Linked DNA regions of Homo sapiens. The protein of the gene in region 2 interacts with the protein of the main gene of each other region in a biochemical or structural test. Each region holds a gene or a part of one and is shown on either strand. Other genes may lie near its edges.

Region 1 (4,284 bases), on a different chromosome or scaffold from region 2:
ACTCCATTCTCCTGCCTCAGCCTCCTGAGTAGCTGGGACTACAGGTGCTCGCCACCTTACCCAGCTAATTTTTTGCATTTTTAGTAGAGACGGGGTTTCACCGTGTTAGCCAGGATGGTCTCGATCTCCTGACCTTGTGATCCACCCGCCTCAGCCTCCCAAAGTGCTGGGATTACAGGTGTGATTGAACACTACTTTATTGAAACTTTATAGAGACTATATCAAATGCCCATGGATATGGTGATTTTTTTCAGTGATTTTTATTTGATTTTAATTAACACAGCTGGAAGAAAAGATGTACCTAGCAATTTCATTTGAAAATAGAATCACTGCCTCATTAAAAATTAATTTTAAAAAATCTTCAAAAGTTCAAATTATTTAGTGAAAAAGTATCAAAGCATGACAGAGCCAGTTTTGTGTTTTAGTATTGTAGTTACTTTTATATGATTATCTGAATGCCAATATTTTATTTGACTATCCCTAACACTAAAGGATAAGGTTCATATTTGTTTAATGTTTTCAGGATAGAGCCTACCCCTGAGCCACTTGTAGGAATCTGACATAGTTTACCACACTTTTACATGGATGTTTGGTTTCTGCAAGTTCTTTCTCTTTACCAGTTATTCTGGAACCATTCTGGGAGTTTGCTTTTCAAAGCTGTCTTATGGCATATCTTCTTTAGGTTGTTATACCTGCCCTAATTTAGGTGTTTTTAAAAAAATACCTACATACACATACACACATATATATACACACACATTTATATACATATATGTATGTATACATACATACATATCCATATGTATATATGTGTGTATATATACGTATACATACATATATATATATTTATGTATATAGATGCAGAGCTCACCTGTTCTTTCCCAGGGACACGTAAAAGGTTTTCGTTTCAGCATCTCCAGCTTCCCAAATGGCTAAGTCGCCTTGAGATGGACAATGGTGGAAACTTACTGAGCTTTCCACCTCAAATTTGAAAGTCCCCCTCCCAAGTGCTCTTTAGCAGAAACATGTTCTCCAACCAGGCCCCTTGAAAGAATGTACTTCTCTTAAAGATTTTCAATTACTGCTTAAATAGTAATTATAAGCATGTGGACAAGGTAGAATTTTTAAACACATTTTTGGTCTATTCAGCTCTTAAGTGCTACATACTTGCTGCTTACAGACTTGCAGAATATTAGGAGCAGAATGGAAGGGCCTTTTTTAGATAACGCTAAAGCCTAGAGGAAATTATGGTGCTCATCCAAAGTTGCATGGCTCATTAGTAGTAACACCATCTGGATTCTAGCCCTCCTAGAGAAATCTAGGGGTTCTATTAATAAGAGGCACTGTAGTGTGCTGATTAAGGGCGTGGCCTCTGTGACCAGACTGCAAAAATTCAAACTCTAGTTTTACTGCTTATCAGCTATGTAAACATAGATAAGTTACTTTTACCTAAGTTTTCTCATCTGTAAAATAGGAATGTAAAAGACTATCTCTTATGGTTGGCATAAGGATTAAAATGACAAACAAAATGATTAGAACAGTATCTGATACATAGTGAATGCCCAATAAGCTTAGTCATCATTATTATACATTGTTGCCTTTCAAAGGTAGTTTTCTAAAAACTCTGCAAAGTTTACAAATATCTGAGAACATTTGGTGTATTAAAATGTATTCTGCAGGCCAGGTGTGGTGGCTCATGCCTGTAATCCCAGCATTTTGGGAGGCTGAGGCAGGCGGATCTTGAGGTCAGGAGTTCAAGACCAACCTGGCCAACATGGTGAAACCCCGTGTCTAAAAAAAAAATACAATAGTTAGCTGGGCGCAGTGGTGTGCACCTGTAGTCCCAGCTACTCCGGAAGCTGAGGCAGGAGAATCGCTTGAACCTGGGAAGCGAAGGTTGCCGTGAGTCGAGATCGCACTACTGCAATCCAGCCTGGGTGACAGAGTGAGACTCTGTCTCAAAAAAAAAAAAAAATGTATTCTGCAATAACATCACTATCCTAGAATTTTGCTGAAAAATGCATGTTGGTAAAGGCTAAATGGAGCGAACTAGGTCTACTGAATTTCACAGGTTTATTATTTTAGGAACTTGGTGGTGGCAAAAAGAGAGAACCAGGTTGGGTTCTGAATTCTTGGAAATTATAGAATTATTGTCTGAAGTTAACTGATAGTGATTCAACTTTTTTAAAAAAAAGCAGTAACAAAGAAAATATGCAAATTGGAAGGGGAGGTAGTTATGGCTTTTATTATTTTGTGGGTTTGGACTAGTTGGCTCTTCTATTTGCGTGCTTTCTCTTCATTTAGATGCTTCATTGGATAAGACAATTGGCTTTCCTTTTTCTCATTTTCTTTGCTCTGCAGAGATTACAGTGGAAGCTTCTTAAGTCGTAATGTAGGGTTTCACATAGCTTTCAATTGTAATAATTAAAATTCTTATGTTAAATAACTAATGCCAGAATAATTCTGAATTAATTTATATTTTCTTTAATATTCTTCTTATTTTCTTGCTACTCTAGGTTGTGAAACAGCTATTTTATTCCCAATGCGTTCCAAGAAGATTTTTGGAAGCGTGCATCCAGTGAGACCAATGAGGCTTGAGTCTTTTAGTGCCTGCATTTGGGTCAAAGCCACAGATGTATTAAACAAAACCATCCTGTTTTCCTATGGCACAAAGAGGAATCCATATGAAATCCAGCTGTATCTCAGCTACCAATCCATAGTGTTTGTGGTGGGTGGAGAGGAGAACAAACTGGTTGCTGAAGCCATGGTTTCCCTGGGAAGGTGGACCCACCTGTGCGGCACCTGGAATTCAGAGGAAGGGCTCACATCCTTGTGGGTAAATGGTGAACTGGCGGCTACCACTGTTGAGATGGCCACAGGTCACATTGTTCCTGAGGGAGGAATCCTGCAGATTGGCCAAGAAAAGAATGGCTGCTGTGTGGGTGGTGGCTTTGATGAAACATTAGCCTTCTCTGGGAGACTCACAGGCTTCAATATCTGGGATAGTGTTCTTAGCAATGAAGAGATAAGAGAGACCGGAGGAGCAGAGTCTTGTCACATCCGGGGGAATATTGTTGGGTGGGGAGTCACAGAGATCCAGCCACATGGAGGAGCTCAGTATGTTTCATAAATGTTGTGAAACTCCACTTGAAGCCAAAGAAAGAAACTCACACTTAAAACACATGCCAGTTGGGAAGGTCTGAAAACTCAGTGCATAATAGGAACACTTGAGACTAATGAAAGAGAGAGTTGAGACCAATCTTTATTTGTACTGGCCAAATACTGAATAAACAGTTGAAGGAAAGACATTGGAAAAAGCTTTTGAGGATAATGTTACTAGACTTTATGCCATGGTGCTTTCAGTTTAATGCTGTGTCTCTGTCAGATAAACTCTCAAATAATTAAAAAGGACTGTATTGTTGAACAGAGGGACAATTGTTTTACTTTTCTTTGGTTAATTTTGTTTTGGCCAGAGATGAATTTTACATTGGAAGAATAACAAAATAAGATTTGTTGTCCATTGTTCATTGTTATTGGTATGTACCTTATTACAAAAAAAAGATGAAAACATATTTATACTACAAGGTGACTTAACAACTATAAATGTAGTTTATGTGTTATAATCGAATGTCACGTTTTTGAGAAGATAGTCATATAAGTTATATTGCAAAAGGGATTTGTATTAATTTAAGACTATTTTTGTAAAGCTCTACTGTAAATAAAATATTTTATAAAACTAGCTCACGTCATTTAATTATAAATTTAAGAGATGTTTTGGAGCAAACTCGTACTTTTCTCTTTTCATTTAAAGTAGGCAATTAGTTTTCAGATACTATTATGTAAACAGCATGGTTAATATTGTTAGGAATGAGCAACTATAGACTTGTTTTAAGTTTGGCTTCCTATAAATCATAAGCAAGAAATATTATCTCTGCCAAGTCAATTCATCTCTGTGGGTTTTAGTTTTCTCAGCTGAGAAATCAAGGAATTGATGAAATAAGAATCTCTAGGACTCTTCCCATTTGACAATTCTAGGAGCTTATACAACTTTCTGTACTGTGTAACATAAAAACAAACACCAAACATGAATTATCACAGTTCCTCAGATACACATGATGCTGCAAGACATGGCTTAGGAATGTTATTTGGGAGACCTAAGAATCTGGAAAAGAACTCCTGCCCTGAAAGCACACCCCATTCTCTTCCTTACTCAGAAGGGAGAGGTCAAGCCCCTTCACACTGTGGATGGGGAGGTAACTTTTCCCCACCACACTAGTATTCTCC
Region 2 (3,500 bases):
TAGAAATATTGTACGAACAATGTTATATTTTATTAAGTAATTAAGAAAATAAGTCATTGCATATACGAATTATTCATTAGAAAACAGTGATGATTTATACCTGCTTCAGATGGCACTATTTTTATCAAAAATGGCTTATCACATTATTTGAAGTATGTATTAGTCCCTTTTCACAATGCTGATAAACACATACCCAAGACTGGGCAATTTACAAAAGAAAGAGTTTTAATGGACTCACAGTTTCACGTGGCTGGGGAGACCTCACAATCATGGCAGAAGGTGAAAGGCACATCTCGAATGATGGCAGACAAGAGAAGAGAGTTTGTGCAGGGAAACCTCCCTTTATAAAACCATCAGAGCTCGTGAGACTTATTCACTATCATGAGAATAGCACAGGAAAGATCCGCCCCATAATTCAATTACCTCCCACCAGGTTCTTCCCACAACACATAGGAATTGTGGGAGCTACAATTCAAGATGAGATTTGGGTGAGGACACAGCCAATCCATATCAAAGTATTTATAGATATTAATAAAAGTTATAACTATACATTGCATATGTATATTATATCACATATTTGATAACTATTTACTTTTATATAACTTTCAGATTATTGACCTACTTAAAAATCTTCAAGGGTACAACTTAATATCCTGATTATAATAAACAGCCTACAAAATATTGGGAAAGATGGACAATCAGGATGTTTAAATATAGAGAGGATATAAGATTGTACTAAGAAAATATTATTAATTTGGTGAAATGTAAAAGATATTTTGTATATGTAGGCAAATGTCTTTATGAGATAGCATTCTGAAGAATTTAGGACTAAAATTTCACTGTCATTTACTTTCAATTACTTCACAAAAAATAAGTAAATAGGGCAAAGTGTAACATTTTTATATCTAGGTAATCAGTTTATAAGTGTTCATTATGCATTCTTTCTCCTTTCATTTGCTCAAAATTGTTCATCATGAAAAGTGTCAATATTTGAGGAAACGAATGCAGTCAATACACTATGTACACTGCAAAAAACACATGTCCCCAAAAATAGAAGTGCAATATAAAGGCAATTAATTTCTAAGTCAAAAATTTAGTAACTCCACATTTTTCTATACTTATAAGACCATTTAAGCATTATTTATGGTTTCTTTATAATAGGACAAGTACGATCATGTGGTCCACCTCCTCAACTCTCCAATGGTGAAGTTAAGGAGATAAGAAAAGAGGAATATGGACACAATGAAGTAGTGGAATATGATTGCAATCCTAATTTTATAATAAACGGGCCTAAGAAAATACAATGTGTGGATGGAGAATGGACAACTTTACCCACTTGTGTTGGTAAATAAATATTAACATTTAAACAGGACAGTTACTATTACTTTGCACTTATATATAAATACACATGTAAACAGATTTAAAATATTTTCAGAGTAAGCACTCATTTTATTACATTTTCTTAGAACAAGTGAAAACATGTGGATACATACCTGAACTCGAGTACGGTTATGTTCAGCCGTCTGTCCCTCCCTATCAACATGGAGTTTCAGTCGAGGTGAATTGCAGAAATGAATATGCAATGATTGGAAATAACATGATTACCTGTATTAATGGAATATGGACAGAGCTTCCTATGTGTGTTGGTGAGAAAACATTCCTAAACTTTATATTTGATTATTTATCATTTTGATTGGGATTGTATAAAGTGTATAAATCTGGCTAGAATTACAATTTTATTGATACTGACTCTTCCTTCCACAAGTAAAATATGTCAATCCATTTATTCAGGTCTTACATTAAACTTTACCATATGGTTTTATGAATTTCTTGTTATTACTGCACAGATTTCTTCACCAATTTATTTGGGATTTTTCTGGCATGATGAATGGAAACTTTTATTAATGTATATGCTTGAATAGTTATACTTTCTATATGCAAGAATGTGATTTAATTGCATACATTATTTTTGTTTCCAGTAACCTTGTTGAATTTCTGTATTAGTTCTAATATTTAATTGGGATATTGTATTTCTACAAATGATGGCGATTTAATTTCTTTTATTTCATTGCTTTAACTTAGTCTTTACCTCAGCATGTTCCAGATAGAACAACCTAAAAAATAGCAATGTAGCTTGAGTTCTATTAAATTCCAGAGTGTTTGGAATCCCTTCATAGAAGAAGAGTAGGGGACTAGGACCCAGGAACTAGGCATGATCCTTGCTCTTTCTGGTCCCATAATTCTCTTATTTCTATTCCTAATTATCTACTTAGTTTGTCGGTTTCCTCCACAGAAGTAGTAAGTAGTAAGTAGTAAGTAAGTAGTAAGTAGTAAGTAGTAGTAGTCTATCAGCCTGTGTGCTCTACTCTTACCTTGCAGCCTCAGGACTTCCAGCCTTGACACTTAAGTACTTGCAGGTATTTTTTTTCCCGACACCCTCAGATCCTGGCCTCTTTTGTCCTATCTCTAGCAACCTCAATACATTAAAGCCTCTAATTTTGAACTTTAAAGACAAGCAGACTTTCCGCCGCTGTTCTCCTCCTTACAGAAACTGAAACAGAACCGCCTCTCTCTCCATCTCCTGGACTTTTGGATAATCAACTGGCCCACTCATTGCTGGGAAAAATTACTGTAGGTGTTGCCAGCCGTTGTCCCAGCAAATACCTGGTCAGTGGCCATCCGTGATGACCTATTGTGAGGGAATGTTTTCCACTACCAGGAGCCAGAACGCTGTTATGGGAAGATGTAGATCATATATCTTCATGGTCATCAACTTTTATGCAAGGAGTACATAAATATCAACCTCTAGCCCCATATGGGGTGAATTAAAAATAGAAACTATTGCAGAAAACACCTGTAAGCATAGAAGTAGCAGAGCACACTCCATGTCTCATTATCCCATCCTTTTACACACTAAGGAAAAGGCTCCATAACTATCTACATGTTTATGGGAAACGGGAAAAAAATGTAACAATGAGAACTACTTAGACAAGCAAGAGGCTTAGTAGGAATTTATGTTCTGAAGCTCAGTTGTGTTATTATCAGTGAGTTCTTCCCCTGAGAATACTCTGACTTACTGAGTCAGAGTTTTTGCTGAGCTTTTGAAATGTGAGTCATTGAACCTCAAGGGGGACCCAGATCTATCTCTTACTGATGCTTTGCTTCCTGCAGACTTACCCATGTATTGCCTCTTTTTATTATTTAAATGTTTTGAAGATATTTAAGATAGTTTAGTGCAAAACAATCATACATGTGTACATTTTCAGAGCCTCTAACAATTCATTTGTAGCTTCCTAAGAACTATCTTTCAGTCAAAACTCCCACTAGGAAAACCTATCTTGCACTTTCATTTCCCAGAAAACTTTCTGACCTACTTTCCTGTCATTCAAAGATGGGATACAGTTTTTTGTTTTATTTTTTCTTTTTCCAACAGCATTGTCTATTTTGTGCAATGAGATTAAGAATAAGTTTTGTGATGTTGCTTAAAAGCATCAAACATA

What was found.
Region 1: the proteins of CFHR5 (region 2) and PTX3 form a complex in vitro, tested with the Homo sapiens proteins (one study listed by IntAct).

What each region holds. Positions count from the first base shown.
Region 1 is NC_000003.12:157,439,850-157,444,133, forward strand, and holds the end of PTX3 (pentraxin-related protein PTX3 precursor), read left to right. Parts: intron 1-2,516; coding exon 2,517-3,130; 3' UTR 3,131-3,784; downstream 3,785-4,284.
Region 2 is NC_000001.11:196,994,556-196,998,055, forward strand, and holds part of CFHR5 (complement factor H-related protein 5 precursor), read left to right. Parts: intron 1-1,161; coding exon 1,162-1,344; intron 1,345-1,466; coding exon 1,467-1,646; intron 1,647-3,500. UniProt on the Homo sapiens protein: Involved in complement regulation. The dimerized forms have avidity for tissue-bound complement fragments and efficiently compete with the physiological complement inhibitor CFH.